7 separate regions of the Homo sapiens genome follow, and regions 1, 2, 3, 4, 5 and 6 are each linked to region 7. The links come from fine-mapping of genetic effects on gene expression. A gene starts in region 7. Each other region holds a variant in brackets. All regions are shown on one strand. Distances are from middle to middle.

Region 1 (4,287 bases), 61 kb before region 7:
TCCCTCAAGTGATGTCTGATCACCCTGGCCTGTCTTCAGCAAGAATCCTGTTAGTTCAGTTTAATCAAAATATTCCTTACCCCTGATGTTTCCTCTTCATAATTTTCCATCTACTGATCCCCAACTTGGCCCCTTGCTATAAATTCCTAGTTGCTCAAGCTGTATTCAGAACTGAGACCCATTCTATACTTAAATCTCTTTTCTCCTATTGCAATAGTCCTGAATAAAATGTGCTTCTACTTCCGGTTTTTTTTTTGTGTGTGTGTGTGTTTGTTTGTTTGTTTGTTTGTTTTTTGAGATGGAGTTTTGCTCTTATTGCCCAGGTTGGAGTGCAATGGCATGATCTCAGCTCACTGCAACCTCCACCTCCTGGGTTCAAGTGATTCTCCTGCCTCAGCCTCCCAAGTAGCTGGGATTACAGACCTGTGCCACCACGACTGGCTAATTTTTTTGTATTTTTAGTAGAGATGGGGTTTCAACATGTTGGCCAGACTGGTCTTGAACTCCTGACATCAGGTGTTCCACCCGCCTCAGCCTCCCAAAATGCTGGGTTTACAGGGGTGAGCCACTGTACCCGGCCTTTAATTACTGTTCAGCTCTAGTATTCGTTTGCAACTTGTCAGGGCCAAGAGAAAATATCCCCTTCACCCTTTGAAGGTTCATTTAAAAATTACTGACTAGAGGCAGATGGATAGGAGAAAAGGCATAGAAATGTATTTGATCATAGTTTCATATAACACAAGAGCTTTCAGAATGAAGGCCCAAAGATACAGGGGAAATTGTCCATTTTTATGCTTATGTTCAACAAACTATGGGCAACTGTATAGAAATACGTTGAACAAAAAAGCTAATGCTAATAACTGAGTGGGGAAACCAAGCAAGCCCTGTCCAGCTAGATTCTTCCTGTTTTCTCTAAGCATGTATTCCCCTCCTTTCTGAGGTTAAGCCAGGACACCCTCTGGAATGAAGGTCTTATGGCCTACAATCAAACAAGGTAGATCAGATAATTTATTTATGACCAGTTTTTACACAGAAACGCAGGGGAGAAGGTTAGAGTAATAATTGTAGGTTTTATGACTGGCTTTGGGGAAAGGTGTTCTGGTTTCTATGACCCACACTGGAGAAGAAGGATTCTAGTTTCTATGGTGCCTTGAGAAAGAAGAGAAATGAGAGACAGGAGGGCAAGAGAAAGTCAGTCGATTAGTCCATTCTCACCCTGCTATAAAGAACTGTCTGAGACTCGGTAATTTATAAAGGAAAGAGATTTGATTGACTCACAGGTCAGCAGGATTAGGGAAGCCTCAGGAAACTTACAATCATGGCAGAAGAGGAAGCAAACACATCCTTCCTTCACATGGTGGCAGGAAGGAGAAGTGCAGAGCAAAGGAGGGAAAAGCCCCTTATACAACCATCAGATCTCATGAGAATTCACTCTCTATCATGATAACAGGGTGGGGGAACAACACCTATGATCTAATCACCTCCCACTGGGTCCCTCCCACAACACCTGGGGATTATAGGAGCTACAATTCAAGATAAGATTTGGGCAGGGACACAGCCAAACCATATCATTCCACCCCTGGCCCCTCTCAAATCTCATGTCCTCACATTTCAAAACAAAATCATGCCTTTCCAACAGTCCCCCAAAGTCTTAGCTCATACCAACATTAAGCCAAAAGTCCAAGTCCAAAGTCTCATCTGAGACAAGGCAAGTCCCTTCTGCCTATAAGCCTGTAAAATAGAAAGCAAGTTACTTACTTTCTAGATACAATGGGGGTACAGATATTGGGTAAATACACACATTCCAAATGGGAGAAATTGGTCACAACAAAAGAACCAAAGG[C/A]CTCATGCAAGTTTGAAACCCAGCGGGGCAGTCATTAAATCTTAAAGCTTCAAAATCTGCTTTGATTCCATGTCTCACATCCAGGTCACACTGTTGCAGGAGGTGGGCTCCCATGGACTTGGGCAGTTCTGCCCCTGCGGCTCAGTAGGATACAGGCCCGGGGGCTGCTTTCATTGGCTGCTGTTTAGTACCTGTGGCTGTTCCAGGTACATAGTGCAAGCTGTCAGTGGATTTACCACTCTGGGGTCTGGAGGATGGTGGCCCTCTCCTCACAGCTCTGCTAGGCAGTGCCCCAGTGGGGACTCTGTGTGGGAGCTCCAACCCCACATTTCCCCTCTTCATTGCCCTAGTAGAGGTTCTCCATGAGGACTTCACCCCTGCAGCAAACTTCTGCCTGGACATCCAGATGTTTCCATACATCCTCTGAATTCTAGGCAGAGGTTTCCAAACATCAACTCTTGTCTTCTATGCACCTGCAGGACCAATACCATATGGAAGCTGCCAAGGCTTGGGACTTGTACCCTCTGAAGCCATGGACTGAGCTGTACCTTGGCCCCTTTTAGACATGGCTGAAGTGGCCAGAATGCAGGACACCAAGTCTCTAGGCTGCACACAGCAGGGGGGCCCTGGACCAGGCCCACAGAACCGATTTATTCCTCGTAGGCCTTCAGGCCTCTGATGGGAGAGGCTGCCATAAAGGTCCCTGACATATCCTGGAGACATTTTCCACATTGTCTTGGCAATTAACATTTGGCTCCTCATTACTTGTGCACGTTTCTGCAGCTGGCTTGAATTTCTCCCCAGAAAATGGGTTTTTCTTTTCTACCATATTGTCAGGCTGCACATTTTCCAAACTTTTATGCTCGGTCACCTCTTAAATGCTTTGCTGCTTAGAAATTTCTTCTGCCTGACAATCCTAAGCCAAAAGAACAAAGCTGGAGGCATCACACTACCTGACTTCAAACTATACTACAAGGCTACAGTAACCAAAACAGCATGGTACTGGTACCAAAACAGAGATACAGATCAATGGAATAGAACAGAGCCCTCAGAAATAACGCCGCATATCTACAACTATCTGATCTTTGACAAACCTGAGAAAAACAAGCAATGGGGAAAGGATTCCCTATTTAATAAATGGTGCTGGGAAAACTGGCTAGCCATATGTAGAAAGCTGAAACTGGATCCCTTCCTTACACTTTATACAAAAATCAATTCAAGATGGATTAAAGACTTAAACGTTAGACCTAAAACCATAAACACCCTAGAAGAAAACCTAGGCATTACCATTGAGGACATAGGCATGGGCAAGGACTTCATGTCTAAAACACCAAAAGCAATAGCAACAAAAGACAAAGTTGACAAATGGGATCTAATTAAACTAAAGAGCTTCTGCACAGCAAAAGAAACTACCATCAGAGTGAACAGGCAACCTACAGAATGGGAGAAAATTTTCGCAACCTACTCATCTGACAAAGGGCTAATGTCCAGAATCTACAATGAACTCAAACAAATTTACAAGAAAAAAACAAACAACCCCATCAGAAACTGGGCAAAGGACATGAACAGACACTTCTCAAAAGAAGATATTTATGCAGCCAAAAAACACATGGAAAAATGCTCATCATCACTGGCCATCAGAGAAATGCAAATCAAAACCACAATGAGATACCATCTCACACCAGTTAGAATGGCAATCATTAAAAAGTCAGGAAACAACAGGTGCTGGAGAGGATGTGGAGAAATAGGAACACTTTTACACTGTTGGTGGGACTGTAAACTAGTTCAACCATTGTGGAAGTCAGTGTGGCGATTCCTCAGGGATCTAGAACTAGAAATACCATTTGACCCAGCCATCCCATTACTGGGTATATACCCAAAGGACTATAAATCATGCTGCTATAAAGACACATGCACACGTATGTTTATTGCGGCATTATTCACAATAGCAAAGACTTGGAACCAACCCAAATGTCCAACAATGATAGACTGGATTAAGAAAATGTGGCACATATACACCATGGAATACTATGCAGCCATAAAAAATGATGAGTTCATGTCCTTTGTAGGGACATGGATGAAATTGGAAATCATCATTCTCAGTAAACTATCGCAAGAACAAAAAACCAAACACTGCATATTCTCACTCATAGGTGGGAATTGAACAATGAGATCACATGGACACAGGAAGGGGAATATCACACTCTGGGGACTGTTGTGGGGTGGGGGGAGGGGGGAGGGATAGCATTGGGAGATATACCTAATGCTAGATGATGAGTTAGTGGGTGCAGCGCACCAGCATGGCACATGTATACATATGTAACTAACCTGCACAATGTGCACATGTACCCTAAAACTTAAAGTATAATAATAAAATAAAATAAAATAAAATAAAATAAAATAAATAAAATAAAAATAAATAAAAAAGTAAAAAAAAAAAAAAA
Region 2 (4,287 bases), 69 kb after region 7:
TGGCAACACCCTCACAGACACATCAAGGATCAATACTTTGCATCTTTCAATCCAATCAAGTTGACACTCAGTATTAACCATCACAATTGGATGAATTCTTTATAGCAAAATTTTATTGGTTTTGGAGAGGCAAAAGCATTTCTACCATGCTTATGCAGAACCTGAGTTAATGTTCTAATATGCAAACGTATCACACCACCCTTCTTTCCTTCATAAGAAGCTTTCAAGGGCTACTACTATTGCTCCAGCATCAGTCAGACGGCCCAGCATGATCCAGCACCTGCTTGCCCCTCCAGTTTCATCTCATGCTACTACCCCAGTGAACTTTATACTCCAACCCACCTGAAGTGTTTCAGTTCTTTCAAAGCACATGGTCTCTTTCAGTGTCATGCATACATTCTCATGCATACATCTTCCCCCACCGCCTACTCCCGATTTTATCTGAGTCATTTCCTAAAGAAATTAGTTGCCTCTTCTATCTCTCATCAAGCCTGGGTCAGGTACCATTCCTGTGTGGTCCCACAGTACCCTGAGCTTCCCATGTCAGATTCCTAATTCACTGAAATGTATTCCAAACTCTTTGTGGGCAGGGCCACATCTCCCTATCGGATCCCCTATACTGAATCCAGTGCTGGGCATGGAACAGGTATTCAATAAGTACTTGATGAATTAATGAATGAATTTACTATATGACTGAATGTATTACTCTTCAGTTTAGGAAAAAAAAAAAATATATATATATATATATACATATATGCCATGTACAGTGGCTCACGCTTGTAATACCAGCACTTTGGGAGGCTGAAGTGGGCAAATGGCTTGAGCTCAGGAGTTTGAGACCAGCCTGGGCAACATGGCGAAACTTCATCTCTACAAAAATTAGCTGGGCCTGTTGGTGAGTGCCTGCAGTCCCAACTACTCAGGGAGGTGAGAGGATGGTTTGAGATGATTAGACAGAGTTTGCAGTGATCATGACATTGCACTCCAGCCTGGACTCTCTCTCCTCTCTCTCTCCTTTCTCTCTCTCTCTCTCTCTAAATATATATTTATATATTTGTGTGTGTGTGTGTAAATATTTTTCAAACTCTAGAATTCAGACTATCTCTAGTGCTAACACTATATAATCAATACACTATATATGGCTTATTTTTATCTCTATTTCCCTGCTCCACTCTTTTTATTCAAGCTATCTAGAATTTTAATTGAGATTATTATTACATTTTTTACATTATATCTCTACATCTTTAGAAAAACTTTTTTAACAAGAGAATTACCTTCACACTAAAAATGAGTTAATCTAGTTATTGAACTACAGGCTTTAGATATTTTGTTTCCTATGTCTTTCTCTTTCCTCCCTTCTCTGATGATTGTCTGTTGATTGTTTGAAATGATTAAATGAGTGATTTGGGCTTGGAAAACAAAATTTTTCAAAGCTCATTGCTTGTTGAAAGCTCTCTCTTGTACTCTTACTTTGAATATTACATGGTATAGAATTCTAGGTTCAAAAGCATTTCCAGCTGGGTGTGGTGGCTCATGCCTGTAATCTCAGCATTTTGGGAAGCACAGGCAGGAGGATCACTTGAGCCCAGGAGTTCTAGATAAGTCTGGGCAACATAGTGAGACTCCTTTCTCTCCCCCTACCCCACCCCCCCTAAAAAAATAGCTGAGTGTGGTGAGTGCCTGTAGTCCCAGCCACTAGGTGGGGGATGAGGTGGGAGGATCACTTGAGCCCAGGAGGTAGAGACTACAGTGAGT[T/C]GTGATATTGCCACTGCACCCCAGCCTAGGTGACAGAGTGACACCCTGTCTCAACAACAACAAAGCATTTTCATTTAGGACTTTGAAGACTTTGCCCTACTTTGTTTCCTAGTATTCTAATCTGTATATAAGGCTGACACTGGTTTGATTCTGAATTTTGTAAATAATCTTTCACTCTGTCCTAGAAACTCTTAAGATATTTTTTCTTTCTCCTTCAAGTTCACAACTTTTACCAAGATATAACCAGGTCTGGAGCATTTTTCTTGGCACATTGTATGACCTTCACATCTGAATGTGTGTGTGTGTTCAGTTCAAGAAAATGTTTATTATTTGCTTTTTCCATTTTTATTCTTAATTATACTTTAGCATTTTTGTTCTTTTTACATCAATATCCTGGGAAATTTCCTTAACTTTTTCTTTCTGATCATTAATACTACGCAGTTCTTTTTATTTCTTAGTTTAGCCTTTCTCACATTTTATTTCAGTAATTATGTGTGTAGCTTTCTGTATTCTTCTTGCTGTCTGATTACCTAATTTTCATGGCACTGATTCTTGGGATTATGAACACAGTGTCTTCCTGAATTTCTCTAAATTTACTAATTTTTAAAAATTCTCTTTTACTTTTCGTGTTTTCTTTGCTTCTGTTGTGGTTGCTTTATTAGTCTTTTTCTTTCAGACTGTTAGCTTTTTCCAGATATTTTACGATACAGGCTACCAAAATCTGTATTAGTCAGGGCTCTCTAGAGGGACAGAACTACTAGGAGATATATATATATATACACACATATGAATATATACATATACATATGAATATATACATATACATATGAATATATACATATTCATATATATATATACATACATATTCATATATATATATATGAAAGGGAGTTTATTAAGGAGAATTGACTCACATGATCACAAGGTGACGTCCCATGATAGGCTGTCTGAAAGCTGAGAAGCAAGGAAGCCAGCAGTGGTTCAGTCCGAGTCCCAACACCTCAAAAGTAGGGAAGCAGGCAATGGACAATGCAGCCTTCAATCTGTGGCCAAAAGCCCAAGGGCCCCTAGTAAACCACTAGTGTAAGTCCAAGAGCCTAAAAGCCGAAGAACTTGGAGTCTGGTGTTTGAGGGCAGGAAACATCCAGCACAGGAGAAAGATAAAGGCCAGAAGACTCAGCAAGTCTGCTCACTCCACCTTCTTCTGCCTGCTGTTTCTAGCTGCACTGGCAGCCAAGGGGATGGTGTCCACCCAGATTAAGGTTGCATCTGCCTCTGACTCACTGAGTCCACTGACTCAAATGTTAAGCTCCTTTGGCAACACCCTCACAGACACACCCAGGAACAGTACTTTGCATCCTTCAACCCAATAAAGTTAACACTCAATATTAACCATCACAATAGGCTAATTAGTTTAGCAAATCAGTATGAGTTTCCCTAGCATTTGTCTTCATCTTTTTTGCAAAAGGCCCATCCTTAGCAAAAAAAAAACAAAAACAAAAACAAAAAACAACAACAACAAAAAACACCAACTGTGGGCTCTGAGCTCTGCGAGTAAATCGGCACAATCGTGTAGAATCATTTCAGTTTTAGTGGTGGGAGCAAGCCAGTGAGCCAGGGTCCCTTTTGATTGCCAAAGTAAGAAAGTCTTTATTGAAAGTTATAGGACTATTTTTGCTATTTATTTTCTCCTTCATTCCTTCTTCCCTCCCTTACTCTCTTCCTTCCTTCTATACTTCTTCGTGGGTTTTGCTTATTTTTTCTTGTTTTATTTCCTTCAACTTGGTGGTGGTGTAGCTTGATCATATGCCGGTCATTTTCTGCAGATGTATCTCATCTTGTCAGCTCTTCTGCACAGGTGTTACTCAGTATGAAAGCAACCCCTCCACTCTTCCTCTATTGGCAACCAGAAGTCAGCTCCCTGGCCTGGAACCCTGAGATGAGCCATAGTCTCTTTCTAACCCACAGTTCATGGTCCACTCCTCTGCTTCTGTAACATTGTCACCTTCTTCTGGTAACCTATATTCTATAGTTGCTCTCTCAGCTAATTCTAACACCCACTGGGGGCTCATTAGGAGCGAAGGGAAATTTGAAGTCTCCTATCCACTCCCGCTCAGATGTAGAGCTGCTTTGTTGCACTACTCTGGGGGGTTACCATTCTCATTATTTTTTACTGTAAATCACGCATTTCGATGCTATGACACCAGCTCTACTGCTAGTGCCCCTTCCATTCTTGTGGTATGAGTAACTACAGCAAGACCCCACTTTAAATTTTAGATAAAAGTGGCACACAAGCCTACCCCTACCCCTTAATGTTTAATCTTCCTGCTATTAGCATGATGTTTATGCTGAGTCCAGAAAGACACATCTTTAGAGATAGACAGAATCAAAGTGGATATTACATTAAAATTAAAGTTGACATCACTTACGAACCTATAGAAATTGTAGCTCCACCAGGGAAGAAAGTACATAAAAAGAATCAGACTAGGATCAGGCAAGAAACAACTTATCTAAATCTAATCAAGCAGTGAT
Region 3 (4,287 bases), 56 kb after region 7:
ATGTTTTTGAGAATTATACCTGGTGATGTAGGTAGACATGATTCATTCACTTTTATTTTTCACTTTTGTCTGATATTTTTTCTAGTGAATAAACAATGGTTTGTTATCCATTCCCTTACCTAGGTTGTTTTCAACTCTTAGGCTATTTCCATGTGTTTGCTTTTACAAACAGTGCTGAAATTAGCACACCTTTCTATGTTTTCTTGTGCACATATGCAGGAGTTTATGAAAGACTTCTGGAAATGCAGCTACTAGTTTTATTATGTATGACAAGTTCTTCCAAACTACTCTACCAAATTTCTGTTCAAATATCTCTACCAACTTATGCTACCACAGATAATAGGAGACCTGGTTTCCCAACACTTGGATTTATCAGACATTATTTTTGCCAATCTGATGGATATAAAATGTTACTTTATTGCAGTTTTAGTTTGTATATCCTTAATGGAATATAACATTCTTTCTAATGTTAATTTGCAGCTTATGCTTTCTTCTATCAATTATCTTTTGCTAAACATTTTCAATAACTAGCTTCTCTTTTTCTTGTTTGGAAGAAATTATTTGCATATTCCATACACTAATGAGTTTTGGTTTTCTGAACTGCAAATATCTTCTATATATCCAGATTGATTTTTCATCCTTTTCAGGGTAATTTGCTTAAGAAATATAGGCACAGCAAAATTTTTTAAATATTATCTTTTTTTCTCCTAAACATCTAGTTTTGCTTTTCATTTCATGCCTCTAATGCAATTAGAAAAATGTGTGTTTTATATAAAGTAAGGATATATTTGATCTTAGTTATTTCTGTATGTTTAGCCAATTGACCCAGAATCATTTACTGAACAGATCAAGCCATGTATATGTGGGTAGAACCCACATATACATGGGTAGGACCCACATATACATGGCTCGATCTGTTCAGTAAATGGATTTTTCTATCTATTACTTTTTTTCAGTTAAATTTTTATTTACTATAGTTTCATAATATATTTTGAATGACTAGACCATTATCATTTTTGTTTTTTGAGAAGTCTCAACTGTTTTAGGCACTTTATAGTCTAACATAAGTTTTAAGATGAGTTTATCATGCTTCATAAAAATGATAAAATCTTGGGGTTTTTTTTGAAAGTATAGATAAATAGGAGGAAGAACTCATATATTTGTTATAGTAAGTCTTATGTGTAAGTAATGTATCTCTACATTTAATTAGGTCTTTTATAACTTTCAATAAAGGTTTATGACTTTCTCATTAAAGTCTTGCCTCTGTGAAGTTACTTCTATTTCTAGTACTCTCGTTGCTTCTGTAATTGCTATATTTTGAAATTATATTTTTGTTTGCTGTTTGTATATATGAATTTAATTTTTAAATAACCATTCTCTGTAACTTCTCTTGGACTTTCATATACATAATCATAATCTTTGCAAATGATGACAGTTTTATATTTTTCTAATCCTTGCAAATTTATTTTGCATACCTTCTCCATTTAGCAGGAACTCCACACAATGATGAATAGAAGAAGGCATTGAGGCCTTGTTCTCGATTTAAAGGCATGTTTTTAACATTTTATTACAAAGTATCTTGGTTAAAGTAATATTTGGTAGCTAACTTTTTTTCATATTAAATAGGGTCCCTTACTCCTATTTGTTAAGAGTTTATATTATAAAGGAGTCCTGAGTTTATTGAATGATTTTCCTGCATGTATTGAAATAATCATATGTTTTAAAAATTGTTAATTTCTTAGTGATAAATTACATGTTAATTTATCACGTTTTAACATTGTTATGCTTGCATTCTTAAGAAAAAAATTCATCATTCTTTGTCATGATTTAAATGTGCATGTTTTTCTTTGTTATATTTGGTAATATTTAAGCTATTATTTTTATATCAATTTTTATAAAAGATAATGATCTGAAATTTTTTCACTAACATCCCTGACAGATTTTATCAAAGTATAGTTTACCAAAATATAAAATTGTTGAGGAGCTGTCTTACTTTTTCTTTTACTTTAGAACAGTGTGAATAAAATAGATACTATCAAACCCTTGTTTA[T/C]TGAAATTATCTTGTAAATATATTTAAAATACATGTTTTTTTCTTGTTTCAGTCATTGTTGGTTTTGCTGTTATTGTCGTTTTTGTCGTTGTGTTTTCCACCAATGCTTAAATTGTTGACTACTGATTTAATTTCATTTATTTTAATAGGATTACTCAGACTTTTATTTATTCTTGAATCTATTCTGTAAAGTGTATTTTTTTCTTAAAAAATATATTTTCAAAATAATTGGCAAAATGTTATTTTATGATTGTGTGGTCTAGTTTTCATTAAAGCCTCTCTCTCTTATTAATCTGCCAGTGATTTGTCTATTGTATTAGTTTATTTAAAAGAATTAACTTTGAGCACTTTTTACTCTACTGTTTCTGTATTTTTTTATTGTGATAAGAGCACTTAGCCTAAGATTTACTCTCATGACAAATTTTTAAGTGGACAATGCAGTATTGTTAAGTACAATTGTACAGCAGTCCTCTAGAAGTTACTCATCTTTTGTAAATAAACCATGTACCCCTTGAACTGATGTCTCCATTTCCTCTTCCCTCCAGCCCCTGATGGGATAGCTATTGGTTATTTTCCATTTAAAAATCTTCTATTCTCATCTTTACGTTTTTCCTTCTTTCTACTTTCTTTGGATGACTTCATTATTCTTTTTCTGCCTGTGTAAACTGGAAGTTGTGCTGATTTTTAGTTTTTCTTCTTTCCTAATATACGCAATTAAGGCTTTTGCCTTTTAATTGTGGTTTTAGCCAAATCCCACACATTTTGATTTACAGCATTTGCATTATCATTCAGATAGAAATATTTTCGAATTTCCATTATCATTTCTTCTTAAAGTGTTTCATGAGCTATTTATGCCTTTTTTTTTAAAAAACAATTTCCAAATACAATGTGTTGCCTATTTGACTCTTAACATGTCAGGGATGGTAACAGAGACCCAGTATCTTCTGACTTTTGCTTTTCTAACCTGTAGCCACTACGTGTGAGTGCATCTTCATCCACCTTGGCGAGGCTGATGTCTGGATTGGCAATGCTGCCGGGAGCTCTACTACCTGGAACAAAGCATCCAGCACGATAGCCCAATGCCAAGTGACAAGACCACTGGGTAAGGAGATAATTGATTCTACGCCTCTTCAGTGAGCAGGCAAGTTTGTGTCCAGGGCAGTGTTTATAAACCTGGAACCCATAGTCACTGATGAAGTTTGCACTGGCACCTACCACCAGCTCTTCCACCCTGAGCAGCTCATCACAGACAAGGAAGACGCTGCCCATAACTATGCCTGGGGGCATCACGACATTGGCAAGATCATTGGCCTTTGGACCAAATTCGCAAGCTGGTTCACCAGTGCACAGGTCTTCAGGGCTTCTCGGTTTTCCACAGCTTTGGTGGAGAAACTGGTTCTGGGTTCACTTCTCTGTTGATTATGCCACAAAGTCTAAACTGAAGTTCTCCATTTACCTAGCCCTGCAGGTTTCCACAGCTGCGGTTGAGCTCTACAACTCCATTCCACCACCAGTACCACCTTGCAGCACTTTGATTGTGCCTTCATAGTAGACAATGAGGCCATCTATGGCATCTGTTGTAGAAACCCCAATACTGAGCACCCAAACTACCCTAATCTTTAACTGCTTTCTTAGCCAGATTGTGTTCTCCATCACTGCTTCTCTCAGATTTCATGGAGTCTGACAGAATTCCAGACCGACCTGGTACCCTCTTCCTGCATCCTCTTCTCTTTGGTCACATATGCCCTGTCATCTCTGCTGGGTAAGACTACCATGCATAGCAGAGGTCACCAGTGCTCACTTTGAGCCAGGCAACCAGATGGTGAAATGTGACTCTCACTATGGTAAATACATGGCTTACTGCCTATTACACCGTGGTAATGTGGTTCCCAAATATGTCAATACTTACTGCTATTCCACTAACAAGACCAAATGCACCATCCAGTTTGTGGATTGGTGTTTCACTAGCCTCAAAGTTGGCATTAATTGCCAGCTTCCCACTGTGGTACCTGCTGGAAATCTGGCCAACATAAAGAGAGCTGCGTGCATGCTGAGCAACACCATAGCCATTGCTGAGGCCTGGGTTTGCCTGGGCCACAAGTCTGACTTGAGTTATGCCAACTGTTCCTTTGTTCACTGGGAAATGGGTGAGGAGATGGGAGAAGAAGCATTTTCTGAGGCCTGTGAGGACATGGCTGCCCTTGAAAAAGATTATGAGGAGGTTGGTGTGGATTCTG
Region 4 (4,287 bases), 37 kb after region 7:
TCATTGGAAATGGAGGGCATTTTTCTCTGATTTGAAAATTATCAGTCATTATGCATATAAAATAGTATTATTCCTATACTCTTTACACCCTAGTCATACCATCAAATGGATAGCAAAGATAATGCTTTTCTGCTAGTGCACTTTGTAAATCTTTGAATAACACATTCCTCAATCATGATAGTCAAAATACAATTGAACAGATTGAGATTTTTATCAGATTATATTCATTTATTCATTCATTCACTCACTCAAAAAATATTTCTTGAGTACATACTATATGTTTTGTTCTGTGACTAACAAAGTACAAGAACTCCATGGCGTTTATGATCTAAGAGGGAGATAAACATTAACTATCACCCTAGGTAGTTGTGTAAGCAGGTAGGCAAGTAGGTAGGTAGGTAGGTCAGCGGGTGGGTGAGTGGATGGATGGATAAATGATAGATGATAGATAGGTAGATAGATGAATAAATGGATAGATAGATGACAGATATGTAGATGGATGGATGAATGGACAGATGGACAAACATATAGGTAGGTAAATGATAGATAAAATTACTAACTGTAGTTAAGCACTGTCAAGATAAATTATAGAATTATAGGAGAGATTATTATAGAGCACAAGAAATCTAACATAATCTTGGGAGAATGGGAAGGCCCTTATGAGAAACTGACCTTTTTTTTTTGAAATGGAGTTTCTTGTCACCCAGGCTGGAGTGCAATGGCATGATCTCAGCTCACTGCAAACTCTGCCACTCGGGCTCAAGCAATTCTCCTGTCTCAGCCTCCTGAGTAGCTGGAATTACAGGAGCCCACCATCACGCCCGGCTAATTTTCATATTTTTAGTAGAGATGGGGTTTCACCATGTTGGCTAGGCTGGTCTGGAACTCCTGACCTAAGGCAATCCGTCTGCCTTGGCCTCCCAAAGTGCTGGGATTACAGGTGTGAGCCACCGCACCTGGCCTGGGAAATTGACTTTCAAGCAGAGATCCTAAGGATAGAAGATAAATAATAGAAAACACAGTGAAGAGTGCTCCGCACATAAAAAATAGTACTCAAGTCTTAAAGATGAATGGATAGTGACATATTTATGAAATTAGAGAAAGTCCAAGATGGCTGGAGAGCAAAGCATAGAGAAAAGTGAGGGAAAATGGGAAAAAGGTGAGTGATTTCTGCATTTCCAACTGAGGTACCTGGTTCTTCTCATTAGGACTGGCTAGACACTGGGTGCAGCCCACAGAGGGCAAGCTGAAGCAGGGTGGAGTGTCAACACACCCAGGAAGCACAAGGGATCTGGGAACTCCCTCCTTTAGCCAACGGAAGCTGTGAGGGACTGTCCCTTGAGAAATTGTGTAATCCGGCCCAGATACTCCACTTTTCCCACAGTGTTTGCAATCCGCAAAACAGGAGATCCCCTTGGGTGCCTATGCTACCAGGGCCCTAGGTTTCAAGCACAAAACTGGGCAGCCATTTGGACAGATACCGAGCTAGATGCAAGAGTTTTTTTTCAGACACCAGTGGTGCCTGGAACTCCAGCGAGACAAAACCGTTCACTCCCTTGGAAAGGGGGCTGAAGCCAGGGAGCCAAGTGGTCTAACTCAGTGGATCCCACCCCGCAAAGAGCCCAGCAAGCTAAGATCCACTGGCTTGAAATTCTTGCTGCAAGCACAGCAGTCTGAAGTCAACCAGGGACACTCGAGCTTGGTAAGGGGAGGGCTGTCCACCATTACTGAGGCTTGAGTAGGCGGTTTTCCCCTCACAGTGCAAACAAAGCCACTCGGGAAGTTCAAACTGGGA[G/A]GAGCCCTCTGCAGCTCAGCAAAACCGCTGTAGTCAGATTGCTGCTCTAGATTCCTCCTCTCTGGGCAGGGCATCTCTGAAAGAAAGACAGTAGCCCCAGTCAGGGGCTTATAGGTAAAACTCCCATCTCCCTGGGACAGAGCACCTGGGGGAAGGGGCAGCTGTAGGCACAGCTTCAGCAGACTTGAATGTTTGAAATTAAGGCAGTAATTTATCAACCAAGAAAAGCCCAGGACCAGATAGATTCACAGCCGAATTCTACCAGAGGTACAAAAAGAAGCTGGTACCATTCCTTCTGAAACTATTCTAAACAATAGAAAAAGAGGGACTCCTCTCTAACTCATTTTATGAGGCCAGCATCATCCTGATACCAAAAACTGGCAGAGACACAACAAAAAAAGAAAATTTCAGGCAAATATCCCTGATGTACATCGATGCAAAAATCCTCAATAAAACACTGGCAAACCAAATCTAGCAGCACATCAAAAACTTATCCACCATGATCAAGTCGGCTTCATCCTTGGGATGCAAGCCTGGCTCAATATACACAAATCAATAAACATAATCCATTACATAAACAGAACCAATGACAAAAACCACATGATTATCTCAATAGATGCAGAAAAGGCCTTCAATAAAATTCAAATCCCCATCATGCTAAGAACTCTCAATAAACTAGGTATTGATGGACTGTATCTCAAAATAATAAGAGCTATTTATGACAAACCCACAGCCAATATCATACTGATTGGGCAAAAGCTGGAAGCATTCCCTTTGAAAACTGGCACAAGACAAGATGCCTTCTCTCACCACTTCTATTCAACATAGTATTGGAGGTTCTGACCAGGGCAACCAGGAAAGAGAAAGAAATAAAGGGTATTCAAATGGGAAGAGAGGAAGTCAAATTGTCTCCATCTGCAGATGACAAGATTGCATATTTAGGAAACCCCATTGTCTCAGCTCCAAATCTACTTAAGCTGATAAGCAACTTCAGCAAAGTCTCAGGATACAAAATCAATGTGCAAAAATCACAAGCATTCCTATATACCAATAATAGACAAGCAGAGAGTCAAGTCATGAGTGAACTCCCATTCACAATTGCTACAAAGAGAATAAAATACCTAGGAATACTACTTAAAGGGATGTGAAGGACCTCTTCAAGGAGAACTGCAAACCATTGCTCAAGGAAATAAGAGAGGACACAAACAAATGGAAAAATATTCCATGCTCATGAATAGGAAGAATCATTATGGTGAAAATGGCCATACTGCCCAAAGTAATTTATGGATTCAATGCTATCCCCATCAAGCTACAATTGACTTTCCTCACTGAATTAGAAAACACTACTTTAAATTTCATATGGAGCCAAATAACAGTGTGTATAGCCAAGACAATAGTAAGTAAAAAGAACAAAGCTGGAGGCATCAGGCTACCTGACTTCAAACTATACTACAAGGCTACAGTAACCAACACAGCATGGTACTGGTACCAAAACAGATATATAGACCAATGGAACATAATAGAGGTCTCAGTAATAATGCCACACATATACAACCATCTGTTTTTTGACAAACCTGATACAAACAAGCAATGAGGAGAGGATTTCCTATTTAATAAATGTCATTGGGAAAACTGGCCAGCCATATGCAGAAATCTGAAACCGGACCCCTTCCTTACACCTCATACAAAAATTAACTTAAGATAGATTAAAGACTTCAATGCAAAACCTAAAACCATAAAAACCCTAGAAAAGAACCTAGGCAATACCATTCCAGACATGGCCATGGACAAAGACTTCATGACTAAAACACCAAAAGCAATGGCAACAAAAGCCAATATTGACAAATGGGATCTAATTAAACTAAAGAGCTTCTGCACAGCAAAAGAAACTATCATCAGAGTGAAGAGGTAACCTACAGAATCGGAAAATTTTTTGCATTCTATACATCTGACAAAGGGCTAGTATCCAGAAGATACAAAAAACTTAAATTCAAAAGAAAAAAAACAAACAATACCAACAAAAAGTGGGCAAAGGATATGAACAGACACTTGTCAAAAGAAGACATTTATGAGGCCAACAGACATATGAAAAAAAGCATATCATCACTGGTCATTAGATAACTGCAAATCAAAACCACAATGAGATACCATCTCATGCCAGATAGAATGGCGATCATTAAAAAGTTAGGAAAAAACAGATGCTGGAGAGGATGTGGAGAAATAGGAACACTTCTACACTGTTGGTGGGAGTGTGGATTAGTTCAACCATTGTGGAAAACAGTGTGGTGATTCCTCAAGGATCTAGAACCAGAAATACCATTTGACCCAGCAATCCCATTACTGGGTATATACTCAAAGGATTATAAATCATTCAACTATAAAGACACATGCACACATATGTTTATTGCAACACTGTTCACAACAGCAAAGACTTCAAACCAACCCAAATGCCCACCAATGATAGACTGGATAAAGAAAATGTGGCACATATA
Region 5 (4,287 bases), 30 kb before region 7:
TGCTTGAATCACGCCTAATCTATAGGAACCTGCTTGGGTCATCCCTAATCTATAGCCAACCCCCGCCCCTTTTTTTTTTGCAGTGGACCCCAACTCTTCCACCACATTCCAGGACATCTAGAAATTTCTTCTTTCTCCTATCTCAACAATTTCTTCCTTTTTGCTGAGTCATTCCCAGGACCATACAAATGTACTTTAATAGCTCCTATCAAAAGGCATGAATAGATTTTTTAAGAATCCTCCTCCTCCAACTCCACATCCTCTTCCTCCTTCCACCCCTTTCTCTGCTCCCAAATAAAGGAAATCGTCTGGACAGAGTTATTCTTTTTCTCTCTGCTTCTCTCGCTCCCTCTTGTAACTCCTAGGTCAGTCTTTCATCCTTACCTCTCCAGTGAATCTGCTCTTGTCCAACAGTGTCTGCTCCATTGCGAGATACCACAGAGTGGCCCACTCTCTCCTTCTGCTTGTATTTGCTGGGTAACTCTTTCCTTCTAGAAACATTTTCTTCAGTTGAAACCTACACCACGGCTCTCCTGTCTGCTTCCTACCTCGCCAACCACAGTCTCTGTCTCTTTTGCTGATACGTCCTTATCCCTCCTATTTTAGACCACAGCTTCTCAATTCTGGCTGCACATAAGAATCACCTGGCAAGTTTTTAAACTACAACAGAGCCCAGGCCTCAACATATTAAATCAGAATCTCTGACTAATTAAAGCAGAATCGCTGAAGGTGAGTTGAAAGGCTTGGTCAATTTTGTTCATGACTCCCAGGTGATTCTAATGTGCCGCCAGGCTGATAATTCCTGGCAACGTTGGTGTGTCTGCATAAAATAGCACCTCCTTAGCCTACACTCCTTGTTACCTGTGTTGGCTTTATATACGTGTTTGTTTCCAGTCTTCTCAGATAGAATACAAGCTTCTTAAGGGCAGGGTCTCTGTCTAAGCCTGGAATGGTTCCTGGCTTATCCTAGACACTCAGTAATCACGTATTGAGTAAATGAGTCCAGCTCAAGATTCTGGCCGTAGCTTATGTGGAGTTATTGTAGTAATAAAATATCAAAGGGCCAGACAAGTCTTTTGGAAACAATACGTACCCCCAGAAACGTTTACCCTTGTCCCTTTTGTTAGGAACATCTCTCGGATTTGGGTGGAGAGATGAAATTGGGACAGACTAAAAATGATATTGCAATATTGTGGCTTAAAATAAATCATTGTGAGATTTGCATTCTTTGAGTCATGCTTAGGCTGGAACATTTTCTGCCTGCAATTAGATACTCTGTTTCTTTCCTAAATTTCCTGAGACCCTAAAGGGTCACAGCTCCTTTAAGACAAGTCCTGGTATTGCTACCAAAATATTTCTCAAATAAGTGCAATCAAACAACATAGTGCAGTGTAAAAATGAGATAAAAATATACTTAGTAGTAAAAATAAGTCTCACTGAAAACAAATTTAGGCCCTGTATCTAAAAATTTTTAATTACGAGATTTTTCCATCACCAATTAATGAAATGAAACTAGGCTTCTTGAAAAACTTTATAATCCCCTGAGGCAAACATAAAAGGCCTTCTGCTAGAGTCAGGTCTGAGTCCCTTAGGGGCCAAAGCTTTGCATGGTCTAGCCCTGGGAGAGGAAGAAAGTAGTTGTAATTAGTGACTATTATTCACTACGCCTGGCTCAACCAAGTTCACACACATACACAGAGAGTTAAATGTTGATTGCTGGAATTTGACACCTCCTATCTATATAGAAGCAATTCAATGACCATCTACAATAACACTTTTAACAAGAAGTTTCAGTTAATTTATTTACAACATTTCTTTAAACATTTCATCTAGGGTTTTTCTTTATGGTCTGTGCTTTTAAATATTCTAATTATTTATTAAAACAGTTTCAAGTTCTTAAATATAAGCAAAGGAATCACTATTGATGGCAGCGGTGGCCCGTCTGAAGCAGCCGCTGCGGGGACTCCAGCTGCAGCAGGGGAGGCTCCGCCAGGTCTGCGCACTCCGTGGAACTGGTGGGAACCAGAAACAGGTGGAAGCCCCGCCCCGTTTTCAGTTGGCAGGGCGGGAGCCCCAGCTCCCTGACGCAGCTGCAGCTGCCCAGCCATGGCTGCTGACTGAGGCA[G/T]CCCTGCACTCTCAGGGACCCTGGAAGCTCCTGTTTCCCCGCAGGCTCAAAAGTACCTGCTCCCGCTGCCTGGCCTCTCCCCACACACAGCGCCCGCTATTTCCTTCTTTCTTCCTCTGTCCTCTCTTCCTGGACGGGTAATCACGTTTCTATAACCACAAGACACTTCCCTCGGATGCATCCCCCAAACTGGGAAGGGTTTAATTTCCCCAAACCTTAAACTGCCTGCCAATCTCTTGGGGAAGGACAACTTCTTTGTCTGTTTCACCTTCGCAGGACTCCAGGGTGATAGGGCTAACGGCTCAGAGGAAGAGAACCCAGAAACTTGACATGCCGGCAAAAGGGTTAAAGTTCTTAGGAGATTTATAGGGGGGAAGATGGCAGATAGGAGTCAGGACTACCATGCAGCTCCCACTTGGGAGACAGAGCAGCCTGCGGAGACTCACATCATGAGCTTTTGCTCCAAGAACTACCGCAGCAACATACCAGGAAAGCTGAGAGAATCCATAAACCCTTTGAAGGAACTGGATCACTGCTGCAGGCTCCCTGAGATGCTAAAAAACCGTGAGTCAACTTGCTTCATCAGCGGGGAGGCTGGTAGTTGGGGCAAGTTCTCAGCCCTGGTCACCAGCTGCCTGGAAGTAGACTCAGTGTTGTTGGGGGAGTACAGTAGGGGTGAGACCAGCCTTTAGGACTGTGGGCTGCATGGGTGTAGAGTCAGATCTGTGACTGCCTGCTTTCCCCCACTTCCCTGGTGACCTGTATGACTTAGCAGAGGCAGCCATACTCCACGTGGGAACATAACTCCACCGGCCTAGGAACCAACCACACCACCATCCCCCATAGCAGCTGCAGCAAGCCCCATCCAAGGATAGTCTGAGCTCAGACATGTCTATCCCTGCTCCCACCTGGTGATCTTTTTCTATCTGCCCTAGTTGCCAAAGACAAAGGACATAATCTCTTGGGAGCTCTATGGCCCTGCCCACTGCCTGAGAAACCTGAATACATAACCAGGCGACCCTAGGGCATGTTTGCTTCCTCCCTATAAGAGCTGATGTGCTCTTGAGAGTGCCACCTTCTGGCTGGAGGCCAACCAACACAAAATCAGTACACTAAGCAAAAACACAACCAAGGACCCTCACAGAGTCCATTTCACTCCCCTGCTGCCTCCACTGGAGCAGGTGCTGGTGTCCATGGCTGAAAGATCTGAAGGCAGATCACATCACTGGACCCTTGCAGACACTCCCCAGTACGAACCCAGAGCCCAGTAGCTTCTTCCAGGTGGCCAGACCCAGAAGAGCAAAAACAAGTACCACAGTTTGGCTCTCTGGAAGCCCCATCCCTAAGGGAATGGGGAGACCATCACATCAAGGGAACACCATGTGGGACAAAATAATCTAAACGGCAGCTCTTCAGTCCCATATCTTCCCTCTGACGTAGTCCACCCAAATGAGAAGGAACTAGAATAACAATTCTGGTAATATGACAAAACAAGGTTCTTTAGCACCCCCAAAGATCACACCAGCTCACCAGCAATGAATCCAAACCAAGATGAAATCTCTGAATTGCCAGAAAAAGAATTCAGAAGGTCAATTATTAAGCTAATCAAGCAGGCACCAGAGAAAAGTGAACTTCAACTTAAAGAAATAAAAAACATCACCTGGGCATGGTGGTTCAAGCCTGTAATCCCAGCACTTTGGGAGGCCGAGGCTAGTGGATCACGAGATCAGGAGATAGAGACCATCCTGGCCAATATGGTGAGATCCCATCTCTACTAAAAATACAAAACTTAGCTGTGCATCGTGGCACGGGCCTGTAGTCCTAGCTACTTGGGAGGCTGAGGCAAGAGAATTGCTTGAACTTGGGAAGCAGAGCTTGCAGTGAACTGAGATAGCACACTGCACTCCAGCCTGGCGACAGAGTGAGACTCCATCTCCAAAAATAAAAATAAAAAAGAAGGAAAGAAAGAAGGAAAACACATGATGCAGGATACGAAATAAAAATTCTTCAGTGAAATAACGAATAAAAAACAATCACAACTTCTGGAAATCAAGAACACACTTAGAGAAATGCAAAATGCACTGGAAAGTCTCAGCAATAGAATCTAACAAGCAGAAGAAAGAACTTTAGAGCTTGAATACAAGGCTTTTGAACTAACCCAT
Region 6 (4,287 bases), 880 kb before region 7:
TCAGCATATAGACATAACCATTTCATTTCATCACACTGTTCTTTGCTTTTTTTCATATTTTAGAATGTGGTTTAATTTTCTTTCATCACCATAATGGGTCAGAGTGTGCAGAACAGTGATTGCAACAAAATTGCATTTTTAAGAAAAGGTCGTGCAATTAGCTGATGGATTGATGGAGATAACTATGACAGGCAGAATCCTCACTGGTCCACTGCAGAAATCCACAGAATAAATAATCAGAACATTTGAGCTTCCCCCCGCTCCACAAAAAAAAGTTAAAACAAATGCTATAGACATAATTCAGAATACTGTTCTGAAAAGACTGGAAGCAAGCCAAGGCTTGAGAATATCTAAGCCATACTGGGAAGGCAGAGAAGATGAAAGAGTAGTGATTCAAACTGGGGTGAGCTGGTTGGACAGGCGTACATCTGGCTTACCAAGCCTATTGGGTTTTTAAGCCAAGAAAGGTAATACAGTGCGAGAAAAAGTTAGCAAAACAAACAATGGATTCTGAAAATAACAAATCCCAGAGATCAGTAGAATCAGGTGAGAAAAAAACAAGTTTTGAATGTACTTAAGCTTAGAAAGTATTTCTGGGTTAAAGTAAATGAGAAAGCAAAACAGTGTACAATGCAACTTTAAAAGCTGTGTAAGGAATTTGGTAACTCAAAAATAAACTGACAATTTCATTTGTGATTTAAATCTGTTATAATGAAAACTCACGTGATTACTTTAATACTTTAAAGGGTTTGAAAGGTTGACCTACGCTAATTATTGAGCCATATAGTATCCTCACACTCATGAAAATGAATGTGGGGAGAAAATTTCTTCCTTAATGCAATAGCTATTTGGCCACTTGTAGGCAGTATTTTAGAGGTGATTCATGCATTGCTTAGTATAGCAGTTATGCAAAACTTAGTGCATAAAACAATGACCAGTTTTTTTAGCTCATAATTCTGTAAGTCAACAATTTGTCTGGGCTTAGCTGGGCTTTATTTTTTCTTCTTGTATATCAAGTTTTCTCTTGCATTTGGCAAGAGCTTTTGGGTTGGGTGGGGGTTGGCTAGTTTAAGATGACTTTGACTAGAAAGACTGGGATGAATGGGACCTCTCTACACATGGTCTCTCACCCACCAATAGTTTAAACTGGCTTGCTCATATGCTAAACATTCTCCGAGAGAAAAAGAGAAAGAGAGAGAGGAAAAGATGAAAGGAGAGGTGGGGGAGAGAGAGAGATGAAATATACAAATCTTTAGTCTGAGAATCAAAACCTACTCTATTTTATTCTATGTCATGTATGTCAGAAAAGCAAGTAATAAGACTAGTCCAGACTCAAGAAGCGAGAAACTAGATAGACTCACTTCTTGATGTGGGGTGGGGTGGGGGTGGGGGTAGAATTTGTGATCATTTTTTACACTCTGAAAATATGTGTTAGAATAGAAACTTCCAAGGACCATTCCAATTCTTAATGCCAATTCTTTTGTGAAAATAGGGTGCCACCAGTTCCTGTGGACACTCAGTTGTTTATCTTCATTGCCTTCTTTACTCTTTGTTCTTTACTCTTCTATGTCTGAAGTGATAGCTTAGTTAGAGCTGATTCCATGGGACTGGGCTCAGTAGTAGCAGGATCTTTTACCAAGAACTGTGGGCAAACTAAATCAAGTATGGCAGTCAAGGGCCAGTTATCTTGAGA[G/C]ATGAGTCATATTAGTTTTCCAAAATAAATAAGTCTTGGAAAGAGTGCCAGAAGCTAAACTAAGAAGTCTTAGGAAAGCCAAAACTAAAATTCAAGCATGAGAAATCACTGCCCAAGACTGAGGTGAATAATGTTTATTTAAAAAGCCTAATCATGCTTATTAGAATGACACAGGCCTAGTTTTTGACATTCAAAGGCCCAGAAATTAAGTGGATATGATTCTTTTACTAATCAGTATGGAATCGCACAATAGTAATAGGCAGCATCTGTTAAGTACTCACTATGTGACAGAAATGGGCTAAGCACTTTACACTAAATCTAAAGGCAATCCTATGAGATAGACACTATTTTTAGTTTTATATAAGAGGGATTTGAGGATTAGAGAATGCACTGTATTACAGCAAAATGATAAAGTTTACACAACTGGCAAGCAGGAGAGCTAGGATTTCAATCCAGGACAGTCTGATTCCAAATATTCAGCCTTGAATCACAAAGTCATAAGATCACTCCAAAAGGTTTTGGCTGAAAGAATTATAGACCGTCTAGTTACATTTTAGAAATGTTATAACTTAGCCAATGTTACATACTTAAACAGTATCAGAATTGGAGCTAGAGACTAATTTAGGTTACACATATACCAATCTTGAAGGAAGCGTTTATGCTATATATGCATATAAACCGTATATGGATACATCATACAAATTAATCTACAACATGCCCCTATGCTTTGTAATACCAGCAGTGTTGATCACATTCTGCTCAATAAAATCTTTATAAACATAACTTAAATATCAGACAAAAATAAGCTGTTCTTTTGGGTGTTTAATATGAAAAATATGTAGAGAAATTAGGCTATTTATGCAAGATCACTTTACTTTCTTCCCCACCACTCACTCCATGCTCCAATTGTTTTACATAACCCATCTTTCCAAATTGTGTTTTGTATTTTCATTTTTTGTTTTCAAATTTCCTAGGTTTTTAACCAACCCCATCTTCACTCCCCTTCCCCATGCTTCTAAAGTATGATTCATCTTTATAATCCCAAGTCAAATGCCTCAACCCTTTTTGGCTGGATTAATCTCATCCTTCCTTCTCTGAATTCTTGTATAGACTTAAATTGCCTGAGAGCTATCATGGTGCCACATCAAACTGAGTTCCTTGAAAGCAGGAGCTCTGCTTTCTATTTCTTTAAATTTCTAGTACACAGTATGTTACTTGGTACAACATACGTGCTCAATAAAGATATACTGAATAGTCACATTTATGACAATAGACTTATGAGACATCCATCCACACATAGGTACACGTTGCAAATTTGTATCACTCTAAAAACAGGCACAAGCCATCTGAGGAATAATTCCAGTAGCAAAACAAAAATATACTCTTATTTGGGAATGTTTTTCGCTTTTCTGCGAAAGCAGCACCCTATACTGGGATAAAACACAGTCTGTGGTACTTCCTTTGACACATTTCTCTCCCCCATAGTTTTTCCGAAACTCAAAGATCTATTTAAGAAGTTGGACAAAGAATGGCCTATTCCCTTAATATTTCAGGAACATGAATGGTTGGACTATTCTTTTTAAAGGAATGAACAAAGCCTGAATATACAGCCAGTGGACTATAAATGGATTATTGTTTTCTTTACATTGTAAGCAACAGCAGTAAACAAGGATATAAATGTTAATGATATTTCTTTAACAAAAGCTATCCATCAGCACTGCTGCACTGTGAGCAGTACAGTGATTAAACCACTGTAACATATGTATATGTGAATATTTACAAACAATCAAGGAAAAAAAGCAGTCAGTGTAATACTGTATAACTCGAAAGAACATGATTATTATTTTTTAAAAGAAAACAAGTTTATTGTCAAACATTTTTCCAGGACATTTGCTACAATGCCTTAACTACATTTTCTTAGACATAATATTGTCTTTGCTCATTAAATCATGTTGTTTTGGGAATGCTTATTTTTGAGATCAAAGGCTACATTTTCAGTAAGTCTACCTTAACAGATTGCCTTAGACAGCATTCTATTACATTAAGTTAAAGAAAATAGCCATTCTAACTTATAATTCATTTTACTGAGGAGCAGCAATCTAATTCACATTGATTTTGAGTAAACCTTTACATACCCATCTGCTCCATTTCAAGCTAGGCTTGTACAAATCAATGCATCTTCAGTATCAACATGCACTAATCAATGGGTAAGGAAAATCATTATTTACTGCTTGGTAATTGTGTTTACATTCAAATAAAATATAGTAACATGTACAAGGCCATTTTGGAGGAAGAACGAGTGGCCTATGGATCACAAGCAGATTGTCTTACATTGTATCAGATGATCTGAGAAATTTTACCAGGAAGGTAAGAGATGACCGTAAGTCTCACCTTTGCCTCGTTTTAGCTCTTAAGGTAGTTGTCCACATTTTCATGATCTTTCAATTCTAGGAAGCCTCCAGTAGGTGAATGGTAGTTCCAGGAACCATCGCTACAGGCAGCAATTCTCCCTACTGGATTATGATCAGCTCCAGAGCTGATCTGGTCTCTGCCCACCTGCTCACTCTTGGCTCTGAAACTTCACTTTAGATTTC
Region 7 (4,287 bases):
AGTGGAGGGAAAATAAGGGAAACAATCCCAAGATTGTCTTGAACAAAACCAGAGAGCTGAACTAGCTGATGGGGGAAATACCTATTACCTTGTCAACAATTTTGTGACTAATTAGTCCTTAAACCTGAGAGAAAAGATCCCACCCAAAGATTTGATTAAATATAAAAACTCTCCTGACTCCAAGGTTTGATCATTTTAACACTGACCTGACGAAAACAGCAATACTGTTCCTAGCAATAAATATACTCAAATTCTGATAATGATTCAACTAACACTTTTAGCATCCTTCCATATTGGATCTTACAAATGTACTATAAACTAACTCTTGGTTTTTGTCACATAAAGAAGGGGCTCTCCATTTGCTTACACCTAACTTCTACTGAACACACAGTTCTGTACAACTTGATCCCTGGAGGTGGGCCTCTGTTCTCTGACCTTTTATTTTTCTAAATTTCTATTACTTTTCTCTACCATTCATCTCAGGATGACTTTATATTGCCTTAAATTTGTTGTAATTTTTTCCATGTATACATTACGTTTTATTATTCTTGAGGACTACCCACATTAACTAAGATAGACTGATTGTATGATGAGATTTAAGTAAATTCTTACTTATCAATTATTAATAAATTTCTTCAAAGAAGAAATTGCCGAGAGTGAGGTATTTTTCAATTCTAATTAAATTATGGGAAACTAGAACAATAAGCCAGTGAATTGTGGTAGAAGCCCAAGCCTGAATTTTCAGCTGTTAAACATCCCCCTCAAAATAATAATAGCTATTTTAAAAAATCAAACTTATTGCAGCTGATATACCATAAATATCAAAAAATTGAAAACTCAACCAGAAGGCATTTCATTCTATTTTATGATAGTCATGAAGCAGTGCAAAAACATTTAAGGAACACTCTGAAGATGGAATAAATGATGTTTTAAGAAACAGAAATAAGAGGATTTACCAAGCAAACAGAATGAAATTAAGAGTAGAGTTGAAAATGGCAAGACAGCTACTATTTTTCAGTTTTATTTTATTTTTAATTGACAACTGTACATATTTATGAGGTACAAAGTGATATTTTGATACACATATACATGTGGAATGATCAAATCAGAGTAATTAGCGTACCCATTATCTCAAATTTTTATCAGTTCTTTGTGGTGAGAACATTTAATAGAAAGTAAATGTATTCTATTGGAAGCTCAAGTTACTGGTTTCCAGCTGTTACAGCTGAAAGAAAGAGGGAGGAAGGCAGGGAGTAATGGGGAAAAGGAGGGAGGGGAAAGAAAACAGAAAAGGGGGAGCGGGAACATGCAATATTCTTTCAGAGTTAAGAAACTTAATCTGACAGGTTTATAGAATTTCGTTGGAACCTAGAGCAAAATCACAATGGCTGAAGCGTCAATCAGGCCTATAAAAACATCTGTGTTTAGTTTAAATGACTAAGGGTGAAATACATCAGCTTATGGAAAATGGGGAGGGCTCCCAGTATTTGGCCAGCGTTCTAGGTGATGGATGTTGATGAGCAATTCCCTTCAACAACTGATTTACTGCCAACGGACAAAATGCTGGAAGCACATCCAAAAACTTATCTGCAATTAAAATTACAAGCAAGTGGTCACTCTGTTCACCTCCTTTACCAGAGAGGTGACCCTGCTCCCGGCAACTACCTCCACCCAAGGGCCACAGAAGAACTCCTCCTTCCTCTAACCCTCTTTCCTTGGCCTCAAACCTCACGGTAAAACCTGCCTTGCTCTGTCTCCCAATCGCTTTTGTAAAGGAAGCTGGGTGTAGAGCTCTTCTTTCTCCCTCCCTTCCTTTTTTCTTTCCTTCCTTCCTTTCTTCCTTCCTTCTTCCATGCCTTTCTGTCTTTCCAAATTCATTGCTTTGTAAGAAACATTCTCAGATCACCTCCACTCCACTAGAAATCCAACGCAGGCGAGTCGGAGTCAAGCACAGGCAGTGGGCGGGTGGCCTCAGCCGGCACCATCTGGCACCTGCGATTCATCGCCACTTTCCATTCGCCCAGAGGTCAGGGGGGCAGCAGGCAAAGGACACGCAGAGCTCGTGTGTCCCAGTTCCTCTGAAACTTTCAGCTGACCGCACCCTCCCCCGACAAACTCTTTAATCATCCATCAAGCTAGAAGAGTACAGTGACCTCTGCCTGGCCTTTGGAGTTTGCAAAAGAAGCAAGCAATAAAAAGCAAGACCAGGTTCGCCCCTTTGCTTCCTCCACCTCCCAAGAGCAGCGCGCAGCGCGGCGGTGCGGCCGGAAGGGGCCGCTGTTTGCTCAGCGCAGCCACCCCGCCGCTGCAGCCGCCGCGGCCCGCACCTCCCACGGCCGGGCTGGTCCAGCCCCGCCAAGTTCCAACAGCCCCCCCTCGAGCGAGCGCCGGGAACGAGCACCACCAGGGCTGGAGCGGACGGCTTTAGAAGAGCCTAGCTGCTGCGCGCGTCGGAGAGGCTCCTGGGAAACTCCCACGGCCCAGGGACTTTCGAAAGCAGAGCGAGGAGCCCTCGCACGCGCTAGTCTGCGAGTGAGCGCTCAGCCCGGCACCTGTTCCTCCAGCGCCGCCGCCTTCCCACCCCTCGGACCCGCGCCGCTCGCGGCGCCCGCCCGTTCCTGCGATGAATCCGGCCCTAGGCAACCAGACGGACGTGGCGGGCCTGTTCCTGGCCAACAGCAGCGAGGCGCTGGAGCGAGCCGTGCGCTGCTGCACCCAGGCGTCCGTGGTGACCGACGACGGCTTCGCGGAGGGAGGCCCGGACGAGCGTAGCCTGTACATAATGCGCGTGGTGCAGATCGCGGTCATGTGCGTGCTCTCACTCACCGTGGTCTTCGGCATCTTCTTCCTCGGCTGCAATCTGCTCATCAAGTCCGAGGGCATGATCAACTTCCTCGTGAAGGACCGGAGGCCGTCTAAGGAGGTGGAGGCGGTGGTCGTGGGGCCCTACTGACCCGCCCTCTGCCCCCGCGGCAACCGCTCCCACGCCTGCCCACTTTGCTAGCCCGGCTGTGCCCCTCACTATCAGAGACTGGGCGAAGCAAACCTGTCGGAGTCAATTATTTCTCTCGACTTCGGCCTTTCGGAAAGAAGCGACCGGTTTCTCCCTCGCCCTCTGAAAGTCCTCATGCCTGGCAGTCGGAGGAGAGCGCCCAGACTCTGAACTCAGCAGAAAGTGGCAAGAAGAGGGCGATTAGGGCGCAGAACTTTGGAAGCTGCTACTTACTTGGAATGCGGGGAGACCGACGGTGCGAAGGCCCTTCTCCACCCGCAGGTGGGCCAAGCTCTGGGGGCAGGTGGAGAGGGCGGGCAGGGGAGAGACCCAGCGGCACTGATCGCCTTGTGACCGGAAGAGTGACCTGTTAAAAGCCACGCAGCAGACTCATGGGGTCTCACAAATCCGTGTCCGGGTGCGCTCCCACTCTTCTCCTGCTCCCCCCCTGCCCTGGAGGGGAGGGGCGATAAATACCTTTGATTGTAACGTGCCGTTTTAAGAGGTTTTGTGTTTGTTTGCTTGAATACAAATGTTTGATAAGTCTTTTTCTGCCCCAGTGGCCTGTTTGCCTGCCTGAGGAGTTACAGTTTTGTCATTGTGGGAGAAGGGGTGGGGGGAGGGGGAGCCTGCGAATTTGAACGGGGTGAGTTGTTTCTTTTAGTGCATTTCCCACTGGGTCTTTTGGGAGGCGTCTAGCGTTCCTGCTGGCCCTGGGACAAAGACCCAGAATAGAACTCGTAGCTCGTGACTGCACGGTTTACGCCACAAAAGTGCTCTTGACATCCGTGACACCGTTTTGACTTTTTGTTTTTTTCTTATTTAACATTTCCTTAATAAATGCAACATTTAAGCGTTTTGTTCCTGGCCTCCTGGTGGTCATTCTGCGCTCCCCAGCAGGGGGGAACGGGGCGGCGGTGAGGAGTCTGGCTCCCGGCCAGGGCAATTAACCCTGGAGAGCTGCGATTCAACTTGTGGATCCCCTGGAGGGGCGAGGGTGGGGCCAGACGGAGAGGCCCTGGGATGACTGAGAAGGAGCCCAGCCTCAGGCACAGTAGCCGTCCTGGAGGCAGCATCCTTTGTTTCCTCTTATCGTGAATATTTTATATTTCATTTAGTCTCAGCTCTCAGGTAGGCGAGACGACAGAAGGGCCCCCGCGGGAAGATTACACTTCCGTGCCAGGCTCCGGCGGGAACACAGGATTACACCGCTAATGAAAGGAAGAGACGGCTTGGACAGCCTTTAGGGAGGGCGTCTCTACCCTAACCAACGTCAGCCAGGCGGCTTTGGGATG

Which allele goes with the higher level. Positions count from the first base shown, and alleles are read on the strand shown. Sizes are in standard deviations (SD) of each study's normalised expression. Not every link is listed here.
In carriers of allele C in region 6, the expression in tibial artery of the gene that starts at base 2,427 in region 7 tends to be higher than with G alone (moderate effect, 0.54 SD a copy in GTEx).

The links. PIP is the estimated chance that this variant, and not a neighbour inherited with it, causes the effect.
Region 1: its variant is fine-mapped to the expression of RPRM in whole blood (TOPMed, PIP above 0.99).
Region 2: its variant is fine-mapped to the expression of RPRM in whole blood (INTERVAL, PIP above 0.99).
Region 3: its variant is fine-mapped to the expression of RPRM in whole blood (INTERVAL, PIP above 0.99).
Region 4: its variant is fine-mapped to the expression of RPRM in whole blood (INTERVAL, PIP 0.99).
Region 5: its variant is fine-mapped to the expression of RPRM in whole blood (TOPMed, PIP 0.99).
Region 6: its variant is fine-mapped to the expression of RPRM in tibial artery (GTEx, PIP 0.98).

Annotation. Positions count from the first base shown.
Region 1 is chr2:153,538,329-153,542,615 of GRCh38, reverse strand. It overlaps a transcript of GALNT13 not described here. Among named protein-coding and RNA genes, the nearest start is that of RPRM, 62 kb to the right of the region's middle. The variant C/A (reference allele first, on the strand shown) is at 1,844.
Region 2 is chr2:153,407,624-153,411,910 of GRCh38, reverse strand. It overlaps a transcript of GALNT13 not described here. Among named protein-coding and RNA genes, the nearest start is that of RPRM, 69 kb to the left of the region's middle. The variant T/C (reference allele first, on the strand shown) is at 1,756.
Region 3 is chr2:153,420,697-153,424,983 of GRCh38, reverse strand. It overlaps a transcript of GALNT13 not described here and the pseudogene TUBAP13. Among named protein-coding and RNA genes, the nearest start is that of RPRM, 56 kb to the left of the region's middle. The variant T/C (reference allele first, on the strand shown) is at 2,051.
Region 4 is chr2:153,440,316-153,444,602 of GRCh38, reverse strand. It overlaps a transcript of GALNT13 not described here. Among named protein-coding and RNA genes, the nearest start is that of RPRM, 36 kb to the left of the region's middle. The variant G/A (reference allele first, on the strand shown) is at 1,796.
Region 5 is chr2:153,507,075-153,511,361 of GRCh38, reverse strand. It overlaps a transcript of GALNT13 not described here. Among named protein-coding and RNA genes, the nearest start is that of RPRM, 30 kb to the right of the region's middle. RefSeq lists an enhancer at 2,050-2,552. The variant G/T (reference allele first, on the strand shown) is at 2,126.
Region 6 is chr2:154,359,343-154,363,629 of GRCh38, reverse strand. All of the region lies in intron 9 of GALNT13 (polypeptide N-acetylgalactosaminyltransferase 13), which reads right to left. Among named protein-coding and RNA genes, the nearest start is that of GALNT13-AS1, 96 kb to the left of the region's middle. The variant G/C (reference allele first, on the strand shown) is at 1,694.
Region 7 is chr2:153,476,902-153,481,188 of GRCh38, reverse strand. RPRM (reprimo, TP53 dependent G2 arrest mediator homolog) reads left to right here and starts at 2,427. Exons shown (of 1, transcript NM_019845.3): 1 at 2,427-3,851. The coding sequence starts at 2,624. The coding sequence ends at 2,953. It also overlaps a transcript of GALNT13 not described here. RefSeq lists a silencer at 2,193-2,392 and enhancers at 2,749-3,252, 3,253-3,756, 3,757-4,260.